Homo sapiens: one gene and its partners. The protein of the gene in region 1 purifies or fractionates together with the protein of each later gene. This does not show direct contact. Each region holds a gene or a part of one and is shown in the gene's direction. Other genes may lie near its edges.

Region 1 (7,022 bases):
TATTGTGTTGTCAAGTATTGTGTTGTCAACTGCTGGCACAGTTCTTTGACCTCATCACTTTATTATCTATAGCTCCTTCTGGCTTCATGATCATTTATTCATTCTTTCAGCAGGTGTTTATTAAAGTTCCTGTTAAGTGCTGGCATTGTGCTATGTGCCTGGGATACACTGATGGCTAAGAGACATATTCTCTGCTTTCATAGATCCTATATCCTGAGAAAGGAGATAAGACCAAGAATATAAAAAATAAAAATTAAAGGAATATTTAGACATTGTGATAAGACACTGAAGCAGGAAATACAGGATATTTAGCTAGAGAATAGCTACTATCCCTGTTTCCATGGTTTTGGAAGACTTTTCTGATAAGATGACATGTCAACCAGCACCTGAAGGATGAAGAGGTTGTAGCATACAAAGAGCAAAAGGAAGTGCATTCCAAGACAGCAACACGTGCCAAGGTTCCAAGGCAAGAAAGAAGTCAGTATATTACAGTAACTGAGGAGGCCAGTATTATTAAAAGGTAGAATTAGGAGTAGAGTTGTATGAAATGAAGTAGGCAGGGCTTCTGTAGGCCATGTAAGGAGTTGGGTTTTTATTGTATATATAATGAGAAGGTATTTAAAGGTTTTAAGCAGGAAATAACACCTATTTCTTGTTTATGGGATATTATTCCTAGCGCTCTGTGGATAGGGGCTTGGAGAGAAGGGGTGTGAGTGGAAGCTGATAAATTAGTTGAAGCTGTCATACTAGTACAGATACAGGATTAGACTAGGGTAATAGCAGTGGAGATAGAAAGAAGTAAATGAGTTTGGAATTGGATAGGAGAGATGAAGGAAGAAATCAAGAATGGCTAACCAATTTCTGGCTTCAGAACCAGGTGGATGGCACTGTTTATTAGATAGGAAGTCTAGGGAAGGCAGATTTTGGCCATGGTGGTTCAGTTTTGGAAAAGTTAAATTTGCAATGTCTAAGACATCAAAGAGGATACATCGGGTAAGAACGTAGGCACATCTAGAGCTTAGAGAAGTCTGGGGTAGGAAAAAAATCTAAGTATTTATAAGGGTATAGGTAACATTTAAAAGTAGGGCTAGCTGACATTATTTAGAAAGAACACATACGGAGAGATAAGGGCAAAGGACTAAGACCAGAGGAACACTAATATTTAGTGATCACTTCCATTCTTGGTAAAAATAGTAACTTTTAAGTTAGCTTCAAGGAAGATTTTTGGCCATGATTAGTTGTCAAAAGTTAGTTCTCTTGGGTTTATATTACTAATTTTGTTTTTAAGATCCTTGTTAGTGCTTTAATAAAGTCATGTTATATCAAACGCTCTAAAACATTGTAGCATGTTAAATGTCAGAATATAGTAGATTTGTTGTATATGGCTGTACCTTCAGAACCCCTAAAATTAAAAAGGAACATCAAATACTGTCCCAAACCCCATATCTAATTATGTTGATCTAATTGTCTACAAAATTAGTGACTCATGTTGAGGCTGCTTCACTTATATTTTGCTCATCGTCAAGTGGATTTAGGTCTGCCTAATCGCTAGATGTGTGGTGGATGCTTTTGGCTTATATATCTGGCTGTTGGTTTAACAGAGGGTTTGGTGGACGTTATTCTCTATCATCAACCCGATGACAAAAAGAAGAATCGGGGGTTCTGCTTCCTTGAATATGAGGATCACAAGTCAGCAGCACAAGCCAGACGCCGGCTGATGAGTGGAAAAGTAAAAGTGTGGGGAAATGTAGTTACAGTTGAATGGGCTGACCCTGTGGAAGAACCAGATCCAGAAGTCATGGCTAAGGTAAATACAGTTGCTTGGAATGGGCATAGGGTCATCATTTAAATTTTGTACTCAGAATAAAGCTCAAATATTTTGAGTTTTATGATAAATAGAAATTGTAGCTTTAGACTTCAACTGTTTGGCAAGGAGCGGCTTTAACACTAAAGTTAACAGCCTGTCTTGGTATCCAGGAATTTCCATTAACAATCCCTTTTCCTGCAGATTAAATGTGCAAAAGGAACTGAAATGAAATTCCTTCAATTAAGTAGTCCCATACACACTGGGTGTTTGTTTAGTGCTAGGCACTGTGAGGGATAGAGGTTTTTTTTTTTTTTAAAAGTCCTGAGTAAAGAGAGAAGTAATGTTTTGGAGATTATAAGTTATAATCTTCATTGACTATATTATGACTTTATTACTTGGCCATGAATTATGTTTTATTTAGATTTATAGCTAATTTTTCTTTTTTTAAGCTTTTTTTGTAGTTTTTATTTTTAAAAATATTTTATTTATTATTATTATTTTTTGAGACAGAGTCTTGCTGTGTTGCCCAGGCTGGAGTGCAGTGGTACGATCTCGGCTCACTGCAACCTCCACCTCCCAGGTTCAAGCGATTCTCCTTCCTCAGCCTCCCAAGTAGCTGGGACTACAGGCGCCTGCCACCATGCCCGGCTAAATTTTGTATTTTTAGTAGAGACAGCATTTCACCATATTGCAGGCTGGTCTCGAACTCCTAAGCTCATGATCTACCCGCCTTGGCCTCCCAAAGTGCTGGGATTAAGGCATGAGCCACCGTGCCCCGCCTCTTGTTTTTAAATGATCAGATTCCCTTAGTGTATTGTCCCCATGAAGAAAGGCAAAAGATTGTCATGTTTGCTCTTATTTGTTAGTGGCAAAATATGCATGGCAAGTCCTGTAAAGGGCCCTCAATTCCCTCCTGATTCCTGTACTTGCGTTGCCAGGATCTTAATAGTGGTGCCTTGAGTACTGGTTCTTAAGTTTTCCTTTGGGCGACTCCTGGGACACATCAGAGTTGCATTTCTTTTTTTTTGAGATGGAGTCTTGCTTTGTCCCAGGCTGGAGTGCAGTGGCGCGATCTCCACTCACGGCAAGCTCTGCCTCCTGGGTTCACGCCATTCTCCTGCCTCAGCCTCCCAAGTAGCTGGGACTACAGGTGCCCGCCACCACAGCTGGCTAATTTTTTGTATTTTTAGTAGAGACGGGGTTTCACCATGTTAGCCAGGGTGGTGTCCATCTCCTGACCCTGTGAACCGCCCGCCTCGGCCTCCCAAAGTGCTGGGGTTACAGGTGTGAGCCACTGCGCCCGGCCTCAGAGTTGCATTTCTGCTGCTTGCAATGAGCTCTTGAGCATTTTAGTTGTCTCTTCCCTTCACAGGGAGGCAGCAACTCTGAATGGCCATGAGTTAATGGTTGGATTCTTCTTGATAAGTCAGAAGTCAAGGTTTTTATTCCAGAATTTGAGGAGGCAAACCCTCGTTCTAAGTAGTTTGGAGGAGAACTCTGGTTTATACTTGTATAAAGTCTGGGTTGGCAGTGACATCTTTGGGTTAATCAGATAAGTTCTATTCAGAATGAACCAGAGAGGCTCTCAGAAGTGCTACTCAGTATCTTTTATCTCATATTCCTTGAGTAGATGGGTGTCTAGGAAAGGGATAGAGAATTTAAATAGCTCTGAGTTTTTATTTTGATTTTTTACTAGCTTGATTTTAATTCCTATTGTTTCTTCTCCTAATACAACTATGACTTTGGGTAAACTACTGAACATGAATGTCATCTATTTTATTGAGCCTGGATCAATCTCTAAGATCCACCACAACTTTGAATCTACCTGTAGTAACTAAGTATAGCCTGTATTACTTTTTCTGTAAAAATATTTTAAAATAGTATTATAGATGTATTATAATAGAGGAATAAAATATTATAAAAGAGGAATAAAATCCCATGAAAACCAAAAGTATAGCTTGTAATTTGCTTACCAGCCACTTCTCACATAACCTTTAGTAACTGCTCAGATGGAAGTTCATCCTAATCTTTTTTTAGGGTTAGAAAACTTCAAGATTTCATTCTGGTAACTCCTTTTTCCTAGATCTAAAACAGGTTTCAGAATGAAAAGGAGGTCTCTATAAACTTAGGATTAAATATTATGGAGCCCTTTATTGTTTCTTTTTTTTAAAAGATGGGGTCTCATGTTGCCCAGGCTGGAGTGCAGTAGCTGCCCACATGTGCAGTCATAGCACACTGCAGCCTTGAACTCCTGGGCTTAAGCGTCCCTCCTGCTTCAGCCTCCCGGGTGCTTGCAACCCCATCCAGCTCCTTTATTGTTTCCTAATTGAAAAGAAAAGTTTATCCATTTGAGTAAAGCTTCTGTTATTCACACTATCAATTTACAATTCACTGAAGATTTTTTTTGCCAAGTTGGGTCAGTTTTACAATGTACCATAACCTAAAAGCCTAAATATATGTCTCTTAAAGGGACCCTTTTTCCTGTTGAACATTTTAAACACAATTTCAGTAAGTAATTTTCACATAGTATGTTATCGTTTCATCATAGAAAAGTCCATGTTGAATTTTTTTTAAAAAGCAACTAAACCAGTGGGAGTCTGTGTAACATAGAGGCTGGACCTTAGTATGACAAATTGAGAATAATAAAGGGGATGGAGCGTTTGTGGAAAATGTTAGTTTTTTTCCTCCTTAAATTAGTATCTTCTTATTAGATAGCCCTTTATCTGAAGCAACAATTTGTTCAATATGTTAGTTTTTTATTTGGATAGGTACTATGTTTTCTTAGTTCAAAAGTTATATAGAAAAGTATAGACAAAGAAATTTCCTTTCTACCCCTATCCCTGTGTCTACCAAATCCCCTTTGTCTCCTATAAGGCATCCAGTTTTAATAGTTGCTGGTTTCCTTTTAGTATTTCCTTCGGCAAATATGGATATACTTCCTTAATTCTTAGATGAGTGGTAGTAATGTTGGTAGCCTACCATATCCACTGATCTACCTTTTGTTTATTCACCATCCTGTTTCATCAGCTCTGAGGAAATACATCATTACTATATGTACTACTAAATAGTTAAAAAACACTGCCAACTAAACTATGGCACAGTACTTGCTTATCACATTGACTGTAAGTTGTCCTATCCTACAACTCATAGAGCTCCTCTTCATTTTTTGGGTTTTTGTTTTTTTTTTTTTTTTTTTTTTTTTTGAGACGGAGCCTTGCTCTGTCACCCAGGCTGGAGTGCAGTGGTGTAATCTTGGCTCACTGCAGCCTCTGCCTCCCGGGTTCAAGTGATTCTCCTGCCTCAGCTTCCCGAGTAGCTGGGGTTATAGGTGCCTCCTACCACGCCCGGCTAATTTTTGTATTTTTAGTAGAGACAGGGTTTCACCATGCTGGCCAGGCTGGTCTTGAACTCCCAACCTCAGGTGATCTGCCCACCTCGGCCTCCCAAAGTGCTGGGATTACAGGCGTGAGCCACCGCGCCCAGCCCTCTTCTTCATTTTTTATGACTACATAGTAGTCTATTCTGTGGAGGTACTATAGTGTATTTAACCAGCTGGATATTGTTTCTAATCTTTTGCTCTTACAGTGCTGGAAGGAATAAGCTTATGTTAGTTGATACAAGTGGAGATATATCTGTAGGATAGATTCTTAGGGGTAGAATTGTGGGCCAAAGGGTAGATATATCTGTAATTGTTAAGATACTGCCATATTCCTTTCTGTAGGAGATACACTATTTTACATTCCTACCAGCAAAATACAAGAGAATTATTTTCCTCATTCTTGACAAAATAGTGTATAATCAAACTTTTGAATTTTGCCAGCCTGATAACAAATGTCTCAGTGCCATTAATGATTAATGATTTGCTTCTCTTACTATGAATGGTTTGAACTTTAAATATATTTTAAGAGCCATATGTGTTTCTGTGTATGAACCATGTATTCAGGAATTTTGCCTATTTTTCTATTCAGTTGTTGAGCTTTTTGTTATTTTCTGGTGCTCTGATATAAAAGAGAGATTAGCTGTTTGTGATACATGTTGCAAATTTTTCATCCATATTTATTGTCTTTGCTTATAGTATTTTTTTGCCATATAGAAGTCATTTATTTTTAGTAGTTGAGTATAACATTCTTATGGCTCCTAGATTTTAAGTCATAAGGTCATCCCCACTCCAGTGTTATATAAAGGAATCATTCTTGTTCTAAAATTTCACAGTCCTCCCTCCACCCTTTTATTATTTAAATTTTCAATCTATTTGGAGTTTATCCTTGTGTATAGTGTAAGGCATGGACCAGCTTTTCTCCTTTTTTTCTAATTTAACACTACCTGATTTAATGATTTAAGCATTATAGTTTGTTTATATTTGGTAGGGCCAGCCTCTAAATTTCACTCTTTTTTTTCCTGGTTATTCTTGCTTATTTATTTTTTCATATGAACTTTTGAAAGTTACTCAGTTTTAGAGGAAAGAAACAGAAAAACTTGTTTTGAAAGGGACTTTTTGTTGATTAACTTGGTAATAATAATTATGTGTTGGTTCCTTGAAGGTTCTACTCAGTGTTAGGTGCTTTAATGACAACATAGGAGAAGGCAGGAACCAATAATTTTTGTAAATTGGTGACTGATATCAGTGTCATTTTCCTAGCAATTTCTCTTACTACCTGTAACAACACTTTTAGCACTTAATGTTTTAGAGGAGAAAAGCTATGCTATGAAGACAGGAAGAAACACTTTTCAGGTAAAATTAAGTAGCCAATGACGGTTTTGTTTATTTGTTGCTTACTAGGTAAAAGTTTTGTTTGTGAGAAACTTGGCTACTACGGTGACAGAAGAAATATTGGAAAAGTCATTTTCTGAATTTGGAAAACTCGAAAGAGTAAAGAAGTTGAAAGATTATGCATTTGTTCATTTTGAAGACAGAGGAGCAGCTGTTAAGGTAGGAATTTTGAAATTTTGGTTCTTGATATTTGAATTTTGTTTTTGAAACTTGCCAAACACAAAGTAACTTTAAAAACTGAAACAATATTGGTTGTCAGCTTTTGCTGAACTCTTTCTATTTAATCTCTGTAAAGTGGTAATAGTATGTAACAGATAAGACTCCATATTTCAAAGCCAGGTTATTACTGAGTTTGTGATCTTAGGCAAGTTATTTTTAATCTCTGTATTGTTTTGTAAGATTCGATAGCATGATGCCTTGGAAGTATTACAAGGTATAAAAATT
Region 2 (7,022 bases), about 19 Mb from region 1:
AAGGTCAGTTTTCAGTCACTTGCCTTAAGTCGCTTTTACAGTTTACCTGTTCTGTTTTTTTAATTATCCTGTTCCCATCAATTAAAAATGTTCTTATAATAATCCAAGCTATAATTTACAGGTCAGATTTAAAGTTAATTTTATGTGGATCCTTTGATGCATATGTTGCCCCCAGTTCAGCAAGAAGCTAACAGTCAGTAAGCCAGTTTGTCCAGTTCATTGTAACCTTTGTTCCCTTTGTCATTAAACGCTAGAGCTACTACTGAGCTTTTTCTCACTCTGACCTGACGGAGTAAAGAGGGTGAGGCAGGCCACTGCAGGCCTGGAAATCCGTTTCCTTCTCCAGTGGTGATTCTTGCTCCTCGTGTTATCACCTTAATCCCAATATCCAGGCTAAAAAGTGAGATTATTCTCTACCCCCTCGCTTCTGACATCCAGTCATCCACAAAGTTTCTCATTTTGCCTCAAAAAGAGATCTCAAATGTCTTTTTATACATGGCTCCGTGGTCTAAACCTTCATCAGTCCTTGTCTGGACTTGTGGAGTAGCTTTTATAACTGGGCTTTTCTTACATTCAAACATACCTTATCACCCAAAGGTCACAGTTCCCATTAGGTTTCACTCTTTGCGTTATACATTCTGTTGGTGGGGAGGGGGGTTCTCATTTTTATGATCTCAAGGAAAGTTGGTAGTTGGGAGATGCAGGATAAGGTGAGAATGTAACTACTACTTCTGTTGGTAACCATGCTCTAGAGGTAAGAGGAGGGTGTGCTAGAACAGTTAATGTTTAATAGGATAAGGAGGGGCAGAATATATTTTGCTAGTCATTGCTACCCTCTTAATTATGGCTCAGTAGGTCACACTTTAATTTCTTAGACTTTTTTTTTTTTTTGCCTATCTTACGGGTAATGAGGCTACAACTGTTTGCAACTGCTGAAGTCTTGAAAGCAGAGAGCATGGTGGCTTGTGTTTTTTGATTTTTGCCAAATTTCCTGGTACCTAATTGGCAGCCAGAGAGTCTCTGGGAAAATTAATCTTTGACAACATGAGATTTATTTCATTTTCTAACTTGTTCAACTTGGTTCTGTCTTGCAGGAATGACACCAAGGAAGATGTATTTGTACACCAGGTGAGTGCTTGTGTAGATATTTGCACTTCTGATTCAAGGATTGTAAGAAGAAAAGGTTAGATATGTTCTCAGCTTTTGTTCCTTATAAAAGGTTAAGTCCAACCACCAGTTTATTTACTTACGACAGGAGTAGTAGCATGCTTAAAAATGTATACGTGGAAATGTGTTAGAGTTGACTTAATTATCCTAGACATTTCAAATTGGAATTTTGTCAACAGCTGTGGCTTTCTCAAATGTTGAGTCAAACTCACTGCATTAAATATTTATACCTAATTTCAGATGAACAGATTATTCCATGATTCTAAAGTTGAACAAATAATGTTGCTATAAATACACAGAAACTTTGGCAAGAAGTTTTCAAAGGCTTTTAGGTGTACCTGTAGGGACAAATCTCCATAATCAAGGGTAAATAAGACAGACCTGCAAAACATAGTAATTGAAGTGAGTACTTGAAAAGTAGCATAAAGAGCCTTCTGCTTACTTTAAATCACTTTGAATGGGTATTGGGTTTTTTTTTTTTTTAAACCTTTGGAGAGTTTTGGCTGGCTTGGAAAATGAAAAAATTTCACTAGTTTAAGGTTAAGTGGGGGGAAGTGTGACAAGGTTGGCAGCTGCTCATTAAATAATTTTTAGATTGGCTTCCAGTGATTTGGGAAGAGAAAACTGTTAACATAGGATGAGTACTGATGAGTACTGCATAGTGAACTTTCTCCCTAAGTATCATTTAGGGAAAATGTTTGCACATTCAGGAATTAAGATTATTACTAATGTAAACCACTGCCAAGTGTATGTTAATACTTCAAATTTAGATATGCTGTAGGCTACATTGAATGTACTTATCCTCACAGATACGAAATGAGTAGGAAAAAATATGTTTGTGCTATCAGTTTTCTCACTAAGGCTTTTGAAATATTGTCAACTTGTATTAAAATTAGAGACCATAACTACTTTTTTGTACTATAATCCAGAAATCAAAAGACCTAAAAGTTAATATCCATACTCACATTTAATTAGATACTAGCTTTTATGGCAGCATGTTTCATAGGAAGGGCTGTCATAGGTTGGTGCTTTGTAGCTCACTGAAGTGTCCTACACAGTATTTGATGACAAGGAGGAAGCTATATCAATTTCTAGTACACCCAAACCCAATCAGGTAGTTCAGGGTCAAATGTAATTATGGAATCATTTAAATTCTAAATGTAAATAAATACAGGACTACTTCAGACAAAATGTTGTTTTAAAGTAGATGTTTTATAAAATTGGTATTCTTGTTTGGAAGAACACAGCTCAACTGTTCCTTACTCCCCTTCTGCATGTTCAAAAGAATGTGTAGACTTAGGAACAAGAGACAGCAAAGTTTCTCGGTCTTGTTGCCTGTTGGCAACCCTTAAGGGTTGGGGTTGGGGCAGGGGTGGAGATGTTGATAAAAATAAAGAGTTGGGATTTTAATTATCCATAATTCTGCTATCCCCTATGACTGCAGGTAATTGATAGTTGGCTATATCTGAAAGGTATGAAAACTATGTGACAGTTTAGATGACAGATGAGATCAATTATTTGACTCAACTCACCCAGTTGTACTGATTCACAAGGTGCCACCAATATGCTTTCATTTTTTTGGAAGTGGTTTCAACATGTAGTTGTTTCTTGGGACTTTGGCTGCTCAGGTCTTAGTGGTGTATCAGGGAGACTGCAGTTCTGGGCAGCTTCACTTAATTGGCCTCAGATTCGTTGATTGTCCTGTCTCCTCTGCAATGGAAATGCATGAGTGATCCTGTAATGGATATAGCTGAGATTTGGAGTGAACATGGGATTTGGAGACCCAATACCTGGGTTTAGAAAGTCTCCTTACTAACTGTGTGACCTTGGGCAAGTCACCTAACTTTAAAGCCTGTTACATTATCTGTGTAATGGGATTAACAATACTTTCACATGTCCTGTCTCATAATGAGATTGAATAGATAGTAAGTGAAAGAATGTTGCAAAAAAATTTCATAGAAACGTGAGATGTTACTCTTCCTCCCTTCTCTTAACAGTCTGGAGAAAGTAGAAGCAACAAGTCTCTAATACAAGATTTATTGAATTCTGGGGAGGTGATAACTAACAATTCCATGCAGTCAGATCATATAAAGAATGACATAGTTAATACACATGAATTGCATTTCCACTGATGTATTATCAGATTGGAAGGGATTTTGGTTGACATTTGTAATTGAGTTTGATACGGTAACACAGGGGCAAAGTTGGTTTGGTCAGCTTTGAAGCATGCAAAACCAAACTCGCCTGTCATCTAAACTGACGCAGTGTGGGGCCACCTTCTCCTATTAAGTGCAGTCCTCAGGGGATAGATGGATATCCTCATTTGTTAAAAGTTATATATAATGCTTTTGCAAAAAGCAGTTTTTAAAATGATGTGTCTGTCTTGAGTGTTAAATTACTTGTTTTAGTTTTGTAAATAGTGGTACAATGCTGGGGCCTTGTATGATTGGAGTGTTTTTGTTGAAGTTGGGGATAGTGTGGTCCCCGCTTTCCTAAATTTATTGATGGTTTGGTCTTATTTAAAGCAAATCTTAAGTGTATATCCAAGCTAAAATAATATTGACTCTGGTACATTTTAAATGAAAAAGCACATTATTCTCCCCTGTTAATCTATTTTTGGAATGTGATATTACTAGACTGCCATAAAGAAGAATAACCCCAGGAAGTACCTTCGCAGTGTAGGAGATGGAGAGACTGTGGAGTTTGATGTTGTTGAAGGAGAAAAGGTGAGGATGCTTTTTGTGTAAAGGTTTGACTTCAGTATGGAAATATTTTGGAGGTCTCATCCATTAGGATGGTGGCTCTAATGTGGATGGATGTGTTCAGGTGACCTCATGAACACAGGTGCATCAAGCCTAATGTTCTGGCTGCAGTTAGAGGGCAATCTCTTCAGAACAGTGAGGAACTGATATTTAGTCATTTCTGTGCACCCCTGGTCACGCAGTTGCGCCCCCCCCCCCTTTTTTTTCCTTAACTTTGTTGTTTTTTGCTTTGTTTGAAAATGTTCTGATTTCCTTTTGAAAGTGTTGAAAGTGTTCTGATTTCCTTTGTCACTATCAATATGTAATGGCTTTTGTAGGGTGCGGAGGCAGCAAATGTTACAGGTCCTGGTGGTGTTCCAGTTCAAGGCAGTAAATATGCAGCAGACCGTAACCATTATAGACGCTATCCACGTCGTAGGGGTCCTCCACGCAATTACCAGCAAAATTACCAGAATAGTGAGAGTGGGGAAAAGAACGAGGGATCGGAGAGTGCTCCCGAAGGCCAGGCCCAACAACGCCGGCCCTACCGCAGGCGAAGGTTCCCACCTTACTACATGCGGAGACCCTATGGGCGTCGACCACAGTATTCCAACCCTCCTGTGCAGGGAGAAGTGATGGAGGTAAGTTTCACCATCAACAACAGCAATGTGATAAGTTCTGGTAGGACTGTTTAGAGCTGTTAATTATATGGAAAGCAACTTGGATTCCTAGTAAGAACCAAAAGGATTAATTTATAATGTAGTCACAATTACTAGATGGTCTGTTTTGTTTGTTTTTTAACTCTTGGATTTATCTGGTTGGGTTTTTTTATTATATTACTGACCCAGTAGGCTTAATTTCCATTGTCTTTTTCAGGGTGCTGACAACCAGGGTGCAGGAGAACAAGGTAGACCAGTGAGGCAGAATATGTATCGGGGATATAGACCACGATTCCGCAGGTATGGTCCACGTAAACATGTTTCTATTAAAATTTCCTCAAACCCGTGTTAGGACTCAGCAATATCATGCCTCTCCTGCAGACTCATTTTTCTGTTAACACTTCACGTTTTCTTTCATCAGATGCCTAAGAGGTGAACCTATTAAAAACAGCTTGTATAGATGAGGTCTGCTTTATACATAAATTTTTTTAGAAAATGATGAGGGTTTGGAATTTCAAATTTTCTGTCCTTGAACAGGTAAGATAATATTTTAAACCACACCTTTTAAACCTGCCTCCTTGGTAGGGAGAAAGGAAAGCATTAGGAGTATCTGAATTGTACCATGGCATTAGTGAAGAATCAACAGTGTTATCACTTGAAATGGCATACATTATCTTCCACTAAACACTTCTCAGTTTAGATATGTACCCCCTTTTTTTTGGAGTTGGGAGTTGTCAGCTCAAAGTTGCAAAATGAAATTGCTCCACCAAGAATTTACATTCTGCGGGGGGAAATCCAGTCTGTCGTTAGACAACTATCTACTTGAGTGGGTATTAGAAATCTTATTAATAGATGTCATTATTAGAGTAATCGAGGAAAAATTCCATGAACCAAGCATATTTTAGTCCATGCCGTAGTATACTTTGAGGCAGTGTTCCCAGTCCCACGGTGGTAGGATAGGATGGTGTAATAGTTGTTTCTCTAAGGGTTTGATATCAAAGCATTGAGTTTTCATAGGTGATCCCCAAAAGCTGACAGGTACCTCTGAAGAATCAAACCAATACAGTAATAACGCATCTTAACTGATCACTTAAATCGCAACTTTTAAATCCCCAAATTTTTAAGTGTCAAGTTTATTATTCTAGAAGTATCCAACATATCCAAAATATACTGTGAGTCTATAAGAGGGGGTTTCTGTATATAGGTTTTTAAATTTTACCAAAGTTGGAGCACTTAGTGAAGTTTTAGGAACTAGGGAATCTAGTCGAGGTTGTATTACATGTATTTATCAGCACATGTACATTGAGAGTTTTGCAAGAGCAGCTGATGTCATCATATTTTTTGTATTAATATGTCTTGTCCTGAGTTTTCAGTTAAAAGAGCTGAGGTCCTAACTGATCACTACCACAATTGAAGATCTCTGATTCAGTTTTCTACCAGGAGATTGTGTTAGCCAGATGCTGGATGTTGAAGATAGATGGGTTTTTATTTTTCAGAGTAGGTCTAAAATAGCCTCTCATGGCAGTCCATCTGTTAAGTCCATGGGTTCCAGCAGCAGAATCTTTGGTTTACCTTTTGTTACACTGAAGAGCTTAAATGTTTTGCCTAGTTTCATTGATGTCCTTAAAAATAGCATAATTTTGTGTTTGTATTCAGTGCTTCAGTTCACCGTTGAGTAAATTGTTTGTCTTTATATTGACAAACAAGCTTGCGGTTGATTTGTCTCTTAGAAAGGTATCTTTGTCCATTGTTACCCCTCCAGTGCAGAGGTTTTTGCCTTTTGGTTTAAGTTAGACTTAATGTCTACGTGTTTCAATGTTTAGAATGCTCAGTCCTGCCAGATAGTTGCAGAAGTAACATAAAATTGCTTGGAAGTTATCAATGAATGCTAGACTTTCCAAACTGTGCAGGAATCTTTTGTTCAAATGAGAGTAAATGAAACATGCTGCCCCTAATGCATGGAATGGTGTGAAATTCTGACTGGTGTGGGTTCAAGAGCAAACTGAAAGGGAAATCTTAAGACAGAGTATAGTACAAGTGTTGCTGAAAATGAGACTAATAGTAGTAAGGGGAAAATGGGGGGTCAAAAAGGGAGGTTTTTTGTTGAGAAATAACATTTATAGGCTGAAATGCAATCCAGGATAACAGTTGATGGCAGGAAAGTGACTGCTGGAACTGTTTTCTTTCTCAGAGAGGGTAGGGTTTTGCCCACAGGTGAAAATGTTGACCTTTTGTTAGGAACCTGCCGTTTTCCTGTGTAAGAAACAAGAATACATGGGCACGCATGTGTTAATGGGAAGACATGGAAGCCTTTGGTTGCTAAATTGAGACGAAAGTAAAGAGGAAGTTTGAAAAGTTTGGGGCAAAGAACCCTCTAGAACAGAAAATAGAGATGGTAAATTTATAAGTAATAGGATAACGATCATAAATTAGAAGTGAGTTCACCCAGCTTGAC
Region 3 (7,760 bases), about 130 Mb from region 1:
AGTGAAACTCTGTCTCAAAGAAAAAAAAAAAATTGGCCGGGCTTGGTGGTGCATGCCTGTAATCCCAGGTACTAGGGAGGCTGAGGCACAAGAATCACTTGAACCCAGGAGGCAGAGGTTTCAGTGAGCCAAGATTGCGCACCTGCATTCCAGCCTGGACAGCAGAGCAAGACCCTGTTTCAAAAAACAATAAATAAATAAAAATAAAAATAAAAGAACTGGGCCGGGCGCAGTGGCTCAAGCCTGTAATCCCAGCATTTTGGGAGGCCGAGATGGGCGGATCACAAGGTCAGGAGATTGAGACCATCCTGGCTAACATGGTGAAACCCTGTCTCTACTAAAAATACAAAAAATTAGCTGGGCACAGTGGCGGGCGCCTGTAGCCCCAGCTATTCAGGAGGCTGAGGCAGGAGAATGGCTCGAACCTGGGAGGCGGAGCTTGCAGTGAGCCGAGATCGCGCCACTGCACTCCAGCCTGGGTGACAGAGCAAGACTCCGTCTCTTCAAAAAAAAAAAAAAATTAGCCAAGCGTGGTGGCAGGTGCCTGTAATCCCAGCTACTCGGGAGGCTGAGGCAGAATTGCTTGAACCCAGGGGGTTGAGGTTGCAGTGAGCCGAGATCCCACCACTGCACTCCAGCCTGGGCAGCAAGAGTGAAACTCTGTCTCAAAAAAAAAAAAAAAAAAATAGCCGGGCTTGGTGGTGCACACCTGTAATCCCAGCTACTCGGGAGGCTGAGGCACAAGAATCACTTGAACCCAGAAGCAGAGATTGCAGTGAGCCGAGATCACACCACTGCACTCCAGCCTGGGCAACAGAGCAAGACCCTGTCTCAAAAAAAACAATAAATAAATAAATAAATAAATAATAATAAAAGAACTAATAAGATAGTGAGGCCAGGCACAGTGGCTTACGCCTATAGTCCTAGCACGTTGGGAGGCCAAGGCAGGTGGATCACCTAAGGTCAGGAGTTCGAGACCAGCCTGGCCAACGTGGCAAAACCCCGTCTCTACTAAAAATACAAAAATTAGCCGGGCGTGGTGGCAGGTGCCTGTAATCCCAGCTACTTGGGAGGCGGAGGCAGAATTGCTTGAACACAGGAGGCGGAGGTTGCAATGAGCTGAGATCGTACCATTTCACTCCATTTCGAGCAAAACTTCATCTCAAAAAATAATAATAATTAAAAAAATAAGATAGTGAGAAATTATTGGTGTGACAGCATGAAAGTACAGGAAAGTAGAGAAGTAAGCCCAGCAGTAGGGCTGATTTTACCCTGGGGTCATTTGCTGATTTGGAATTAGTGGCAGAAAATAGGTTGTGTGGGGCCGGTGAAGTCCAGGCCGGGTGTGGTGGCTCACACCTGTAATCCCAGCACTTTAGGAGGCCAAGGCGGGAGGATGGCTTGAGCTTAGGAGTTTCAGACCAGCCTGGGCAACAGAGCGAGACCCCATTTCAATTTTTTTAAATTAAAAAAAAGAAAAAGGGCCAGGCACGGTCGCTCATGCCTGTAACCCCAGCACTTTGGGAGGCTGAGATGGATGGATCATGAGATCAGGAGTTCAAGTCCAGCCTGCACAAGATGGTGAGACCCCCCATCTCTACTAAAAATACAAACATTAGCCAGGCGTGGTGGTGCATGCCTGTAAGCCCAGCTACTCGGGAGGCTGAGGCAGGAGAATCACTTGAACCCAGGAGGCAGAGGTTGTAGTGAGCCGAGATTGCGCCACTGCACTCCAGCCTGGGCAATAGGGGGAAACTCACTCTCAAAAAAAAAAAAAAAAAAAGGAGTCCAAATGTCCCCAAAGGTGATAACCTTGGTAAACCACCTTCGTGTTTTGGGCTAGGATCTCAAAAGGCTGCACTCCTAGGGGCAACCTGGGAGTAGAATAAATAGAAAATCTAAGGTCCTGCTTGGTGCCTCACATCTGTAATCCCAGAACTTTGGGAGGCTGAGGTGAGGATCACTAGAGCCCAGGAGTTGGAGACCAGCTTAGGCAACATAGTGAGACCTTATCTCTACCAAAAATTAAAAAATTAGTTGGGTGTGGTGACATATGCCTATAGTCCGAGCTACTCTGGAGGTTGACACAGGAGGATCGCTTGAGCCCAAGAGGTTGAGGCTTCAGTGAGCTGTGTTTATGCCACTGAACTCCAGCCTGGGCAACAGGAGTGAGACCCTGTCTCAAAAATAATAATAATACAGACCCAAAATATTAAAAGACCAAAATTAAGAACCAAATGATAGATTTAATACTATGTTAGACTAAACTGAGGAGCAAGTAATAAATTGGAAGAAAGGACAGCAGAAACTACCTAAAATGAAGAATGGATAAAAAGGAATGAAAAGCATAAAAAGAGAGGGTAAAAGGCCTTTGCAGTGGCTCATGCCTGTAATCCCAGCACTTTGGGAGGCCGAGGTGGGTGGATCACCTGAGGTTGGGAGTTCGAAACTAGCTTGAGCAACATGGAGAAACCCTGTCTCTACTAAAAATACAAAATTATCCAGGCATGGTGGTGCATGCCTGTAATCCCAGCTACTCGGGAGGCTGAGGCAGGAGAATCACTTGGACCTGGGAGGCAGAGTTTGTGAGCCAAGATCACGCATTGCACTCCAGCCTGGGCAACAAGAGCGAAACTCTGTCTCAAAAAAAACAAAAACAAAAACAAAAACAAAAACAAAAACAAAAACAAAACAAAGACTAGCCTTGACAACATATAAAGTACCCCATCTCTACAAAAATAAATAAATAAGTAAGCCCGGGGCCAAAGGAGGTGGCTCACACCTGTAATCCCAGCACTTTAGGAGACAGAGGCAGGAGGATCACCTGAGGTCAGGAGTTTGAGACCAGTCTGGCCAACATGGTGAAACCCCATGTCTACTAAAAATACAAAAATTAGCTGGGCAGGGCCGGGCATGGTGGCTCACGTCTGTAATCCCAGCACTTTGGGAGGCCGAGGCGGGCAGATCACTAGATCAAGAGATGGTGACCATCCTCGCTAACACCGCGAAACCCCGTCTCTACTAAAAATACAAAAAAAAAAAAATTAGCTGGGCGTGGTGGCGGGCGCCTGTAGTCCCAGCTACTCGGGAGGCTGAGGCAGGAGAATCGCTTGAACCGGGGAGGCGGAGGTTGCAGTGAGCTGAAATAGCGCCACTGCACTGCAGCCTGGGAGACTCCATCTCAAAAAAAAAAATAAAATTAGCTCGGAGTGGTGTGGCCTGTGCCTTTGAGTAGTCCCAACTACTAGGGAGGCCGAAATGGGAGAGTCTCTTGAGGCCAGGAGGTTGAGGCTGCAGTGAGCTATGATGGTGCACCACTGCACTCCAGCCTGGGCAACAGAGTGAGACCCTGTGTCTAAATAAAATGAAATAATAGAAGAGAGGGTAAGAGACAAAGAGATTACTGGGGGAAAAGTCTAACCCGTCTTTATTTGGAGTTCAGGAACGAGGGAAATAATAGGTAAAACTAATACTTGAAGAGATAATAGCTGATAAATTTAATAAATGGACGACAAACCTGAAGCCATTGATTCAAGAAGCTCAACAAACCTCAAGTAAGATTTTTTTTTTTTTAAACGGAGTCTCCCTCTATCGCCCAGGCTGGGGTGCAGTGGCGCCATCTCAGCTCACTGCAACCTCCGCCTCCCGGATTCAAGAGATTCTCCTGCCTCAGCCTCCTGAGTAACTGGAATTACAGGCGCCCGCCAGCACGCCGGCTAATTTTTGTATTTTTAGTAGAGACGGAGTTTCACCATGTTGGCCAGGCTGATCTCGAACTCCTGACCTCGGGTGATCCACCCGTCTCGGCCTCCCACAGTGCTGGGTGGCCACAAGCCACCGCACTCGGTCCGCTTTTTGTTTGCTTGTTTTTTAAAAATTAATAATATTTATTTTAATCTGGATGGTGGTTACGTGGCCAGAATACGTTTAGACTTAAGATGTTTACGTTCTGCTGTAGTAAATTAAATATCGAAAAAGTACTTATGGAAGGGAGGTAGGTGAGGGATAAAAGTCTACAAGTTGGGTTCAGTGTATACTGCTCGGGTGATGAGTGCACCAAAATCTCACAAATCACCACTAAAGAATTTATGTAACCAAGCTGGGCGCTGTGGCTCACGCCGGTAATCCCAGCACTTTCGGAAGCTGAGGCGGGTGGATCACCTGTTTCCATGGACATGGAAAACCATGTTTTCCACACTAATTCAATCAATATACTCCTCTCCTATCTAAAACCTGTTTCTCCTGCTTCGAGTTTGTAGACGTGCAGTGTTCATAGTTGCCTAAACTCCCTTTTCCCCATCAACTTCAACTGCTAGTGGCAAAAATAGCTGATATTGGTTGCATTTTTGAGGTAGGAAAATTGGCAAGATATTTTCCTTCACTAAAGAAACGTAGATTACGTATGCCGTACAGGGCAATGAAAAAACTCCGATAGCAGAGGATGGTTTCGATCCATCGACCTCTGGGTTATGGGCCCAGCACGCTTCCGCTGCGCCACTCTGCTATCTAGAACTAAAATTTCTCATGATTGTTATAGAACACTACGTAGTCGTTGTCCTGACTTCTTTAGTGCCACCTAATGTCTGATCAAAAATTCGTCATTACTATAGAACCAGTTCTTATTGGCTAGTTCCTGACACAGTAGGCGTTTTTTATTGGTTCATAAGCCCGGTTTGACAAAGTAAGCCAATAGGCATAAGCGATGGGGTAAGGCGGGAGCCAATCGCACCGGGTTTTATTGGGACACGCCGGCAAGACGCCTCTTCAGTTGTCTGCTACTCAGAGGAAGGGGCGGTTGGTGCGGCCTCCATTGTTCGTGTTTTAAGGCGCCATGAGGTAAGTGGGTCGAAGCGGTCGAAAGGTTTCAGGTATTCGACGGAAAACTTTGTGAACGTGGGCCGAAAGAAGTCGGAGTATCAGAAAGGGCCATGTATCCGGGGGCTGGCCAAAAACCTGAGAACTCCTGGTCTAGGATAGTGGGAGAGATGGAGGCCGGTAGAGGCGGGGAAACTTGGGCCCGGGATGGGGTTCGGGCCCAGGAGTGGGGAGGGGGGTTCGACACCTTTGTCTCTGAAGGGTTGCGATGAGGGGGTGTCCTCAAGCCCCTGGAGGAGCTCCCCACCTTTCCCCCGCCCCCGTCATCCGGGCTGAGAATGCTGGAGCGAGCCGCATTCATCCTCAGTGCGAAGGCCTTGACATTAGGACACGCCCGATAAATGTGTACCTTAGTGAAGAAATGAGCAATCTTTAGCCTCCGAAGTATTAGGATTCGTGTGGCCCAGGATTATGGGTTATTAAGTGTAGGGCTCACTGAGCCCCATCATTACTTGATGGGGGTTGGATTAACTTAGAGGAGGTTATGGGGGTGTAACTGGGCACCATTTGGAATGGGGACAAGTGTAAGTGTGAGTGGGGTCTCTTGCCTACCGTTGGGAGGTTCCGAGGGATGAAAGTAGCCAACCTAAGATGATATGGCCGGTGGGTATTCCTTCAATGAGGTCAAAATAAAATCTGCATTTCTAGGGGTGACAGAGGCCGTGGTCGTGGTGGGCGCTTTGGTTCCAGAGGAGGCCCAGGAGGAGGGTGAGTACCAGCTTTTAGCATCTCTGCACTTGGTTGTTAGTTTCTGCTTGTCATCTAAATAGGAGTTTTAGAGTAGACTAATGTCACTTGGTTTTGCGAGAGCCAACTGTGGTCTTTTCCTGCACTCCTGTTAAATGAATTTGGCCCCACTATGCTAAGAATGATTCTTTCCCTCCCCGGAGACTTTGTCACTCATTCTGAGGACTGACATGTTTTCAAAATTGTTGGCGTGTTATTTACATCTCGCTTGATTCCTACCTAGGGAATAATTTGGCTGTTTTTCATGTTTTAGGTTCAGGCCCTTTGTACCACATATCCCATTTGACTTCTATTTGGTGAGTACCTTGGGTTAATGATACACATTTTCTGGTCACTGTTGAAATGGAGCCCAGTATCTCCCAGTTAATGAAGTTAGATGGTGGTTGAAGAGGGCAGACACAGTGCCTCACGCCTGTAATCTCAGCACTTTGGGAGGCCGAGGCAGATGGATTACCTGAAGGTCAGGAGTTTGAGACTAGCCTGGCCAATATGGTGAAACCCCGTCTCTACTAAAAATAAAAAAGTTGGCTGGGCATGTGTCTAATCCCAGCTACTTGGGAGGCTGAAGCAGGAGAATTGCTTGAACCCGGGACGCGGAGGTTGCAGTGAACCAAGATGGCACCACTACAAAAAAAAAAAGATGGTTGAAATAGGGAGGGAAAGTGATTTGTGAAAAGATTTGGGGTTTTGAGTCAACTGTGTGTTGCTTTACATACAGAAACAGTGTAAGCATGGTGGGGAGAATAATTCCTTGGCTACTGTTGGCATTAAACATGATTATAATCTTTGTTCTGAACAAGTAATTGTATTTATGGTATATCTGTTACTATAAAGATAGTGATAGCTTAAATTATGGCTATTCCAGCTTTTATCCTTGTTTGAACTTTTTATTTTTTTTGAGACAGTCTCACTCTGTCACCCAGGCTGGAGTGCAGTGGTGCAATCTTGGCTCACTGCACTGAACCTGGGAGGCAGAGGAATCAGGACCTCTGCCTCCAGGGTTCAAACGATTCTCCTGCCTCAGCCTCCTGAGTAGTTGGGATTACAGGCACCTGCCACCATGCCCAGCTAATTTTTGTATGTCTGTTTAGTAGAGACGGGGTTTCACCATGTTGCCCAGGCTGATCTTGAACTCCTGACCTCAAGTGATCTGCCCACCTCAGCCTCCCACGGTGCTGGGATTACAGGTGTGCGTGACCCACTGTGCCTGGCCTTTGAATAAATTTTTTTTTTTGAGGCAGGGTCTCACTCTGTTGCCCAGGCTGGAGTTGCAATGGCGCGATCTTGGCTCACTGCAACCTCGCTTCCTGTGTTCAAGGGATTCTCTCACCTCAGCCTCCCAAGTAGCTGGGATTACAGGTGTGAGCCACCACGCCCAGCTATCACCTCAGCCTCCCAAGTAGCTGGGATTACAGGTGTGAGCCACCACGCCCAGCTAATTGAACAAATTAAGCAGTAAAAACAAGTGTAGAATTTTCTGTTTTTAACCTTTTTCTGTCGTAGTAATAGAAAAAACAATCTCTCCTGTATATTATCTTCGGCAAATAGAATGTAGTTGTTTACTTCTGGTTTAGTGTGAAATGGCCTTTCCCCGGGTCAAGCCAGCACCTGATGAAACTTCCTTCAGTGAGGCCTTGCTGAAGAGGAATCAGGACCTGGCTCCCAATTCTGCTGAACAGGTATGTTCTTTTGGCTGTCTTCCAGAAATGTCTCTAAAGCAGTTAAAAGTATTGGTAAAGAGTAACTGTTGGTAAGGTTAAGAATGGTGTTAACAGAGCCTGAAATCCACAAAGGGTTTAATTGTTCTCCTTATTTCTCATTGTGGGTGGAGATAGCCAGGTGGATATATAAACAAATTACATATGCATTCTTATTTTTACTGGGGACAAAGAGTTGTTCTCTTCCCATATATTCAAGGCCAGAATGAAGTGTTTTTAAAGCCCTATGTCAGTATTGAGTCAGCTTGTATGGAAGGGATTAGGAGAAAATATTCAAATTCTGAGAAATTGCTTATAATTTTTCATTTTCAAGTATTGTTTCATACTGTTTTTCAGGCATCTATCCTTTCTCTGGTGACAAAAATAAACAATGTGATTGATAATCTGATTGTGGCTCCAGGGACATTTGAAGTGGTGAGT

The links. The genes of interacting proteins can lie anywhere in the genome.
Region 2: the proteins of HNRNPR (region 1) and YBX1 purify together in Homo sapiens (co-immunoprecipitation; 5 studies listed by BioGRID and IntAct, with this or other methods). This does not show direct contact.
Region 3: the proteins of HNRNPR (region 1) and ILF2 purify together in Homo sapiens (affinity purification with mass spectrometry; 5 studies listed by BioGRID and IntAct, with this or other methods). This does not show direct contact.

What each region holds. Positions count from the first base shown.
Region 1 is NC_000001.11:23,313,268-23,320,289, reverse strand, and holds part of HNRNPR (heterogeneous nuclear ribonucleoprotein R), read left to right. Parts: intron 1-1,592; coding exon of another isoform or gene 1,593-1,601; coding exon 1,602-1,807; intron 1,808-6,587; coding exon 6,588-6,737; intron 6,738-7,022. UniProt on the Homo sapiens protein: Component of ribonucleosomes, which are complexes of at least 20 other different heterogeneous nuclear ribonucleoproteins (hnRNP). hnRNP play an important role in processing of precursor mRNA in the nucleus.
Region 2 is NC_000001.11:42,692,396-42,699,417, forward strand, and holds part of YBX1 (Y-box-binding protein 1), read left to right. Parts: intron 1-1,094; coding exon 1,095-1,128; intron 1,129-3,803; coding exon 3,804-3,893; intron 3,894-4,246; coding exon 4,247-4,549; intron 4,550-4,784; coding exon 4,785-4,867; intron 4,868-7,022. UniProt on the Homo sapiens protein: DNA- and RNA-binding protein involved in various processes, such as translational repression, RNA stabilization, mRNA splicing, DNA repair and transcription regulation.
Region 3 is NC_000001.11:153,667,994-153,675,753, reverse strand, and holds the start of ILF2 (interleukin enhancer-binding factor 2), read left to right. Parts: upstream 1-4,760; 5' UTR 4,761-4,831; coding exon 4,832-4,836; intron 4,837-5,523; coding exon 5,524-5,583; intron 5,584-5,875; coding exon 5,876-5,918; intron 5,919-7,177; exon of another isoform or gene 7,178-7,196; coding exon 7,197-7,301; intron 7,302-7,676; coding exon 7,677-7,754; intron 7,755-7,760. UniProt on the Homo sapiens protein: Chromatin-interacting protein that forms a stable heterodimer with interleukin enhancer-binding factor 3/ILF3 and plays a role in several biological processes including transcription, innate immunity or cell growth.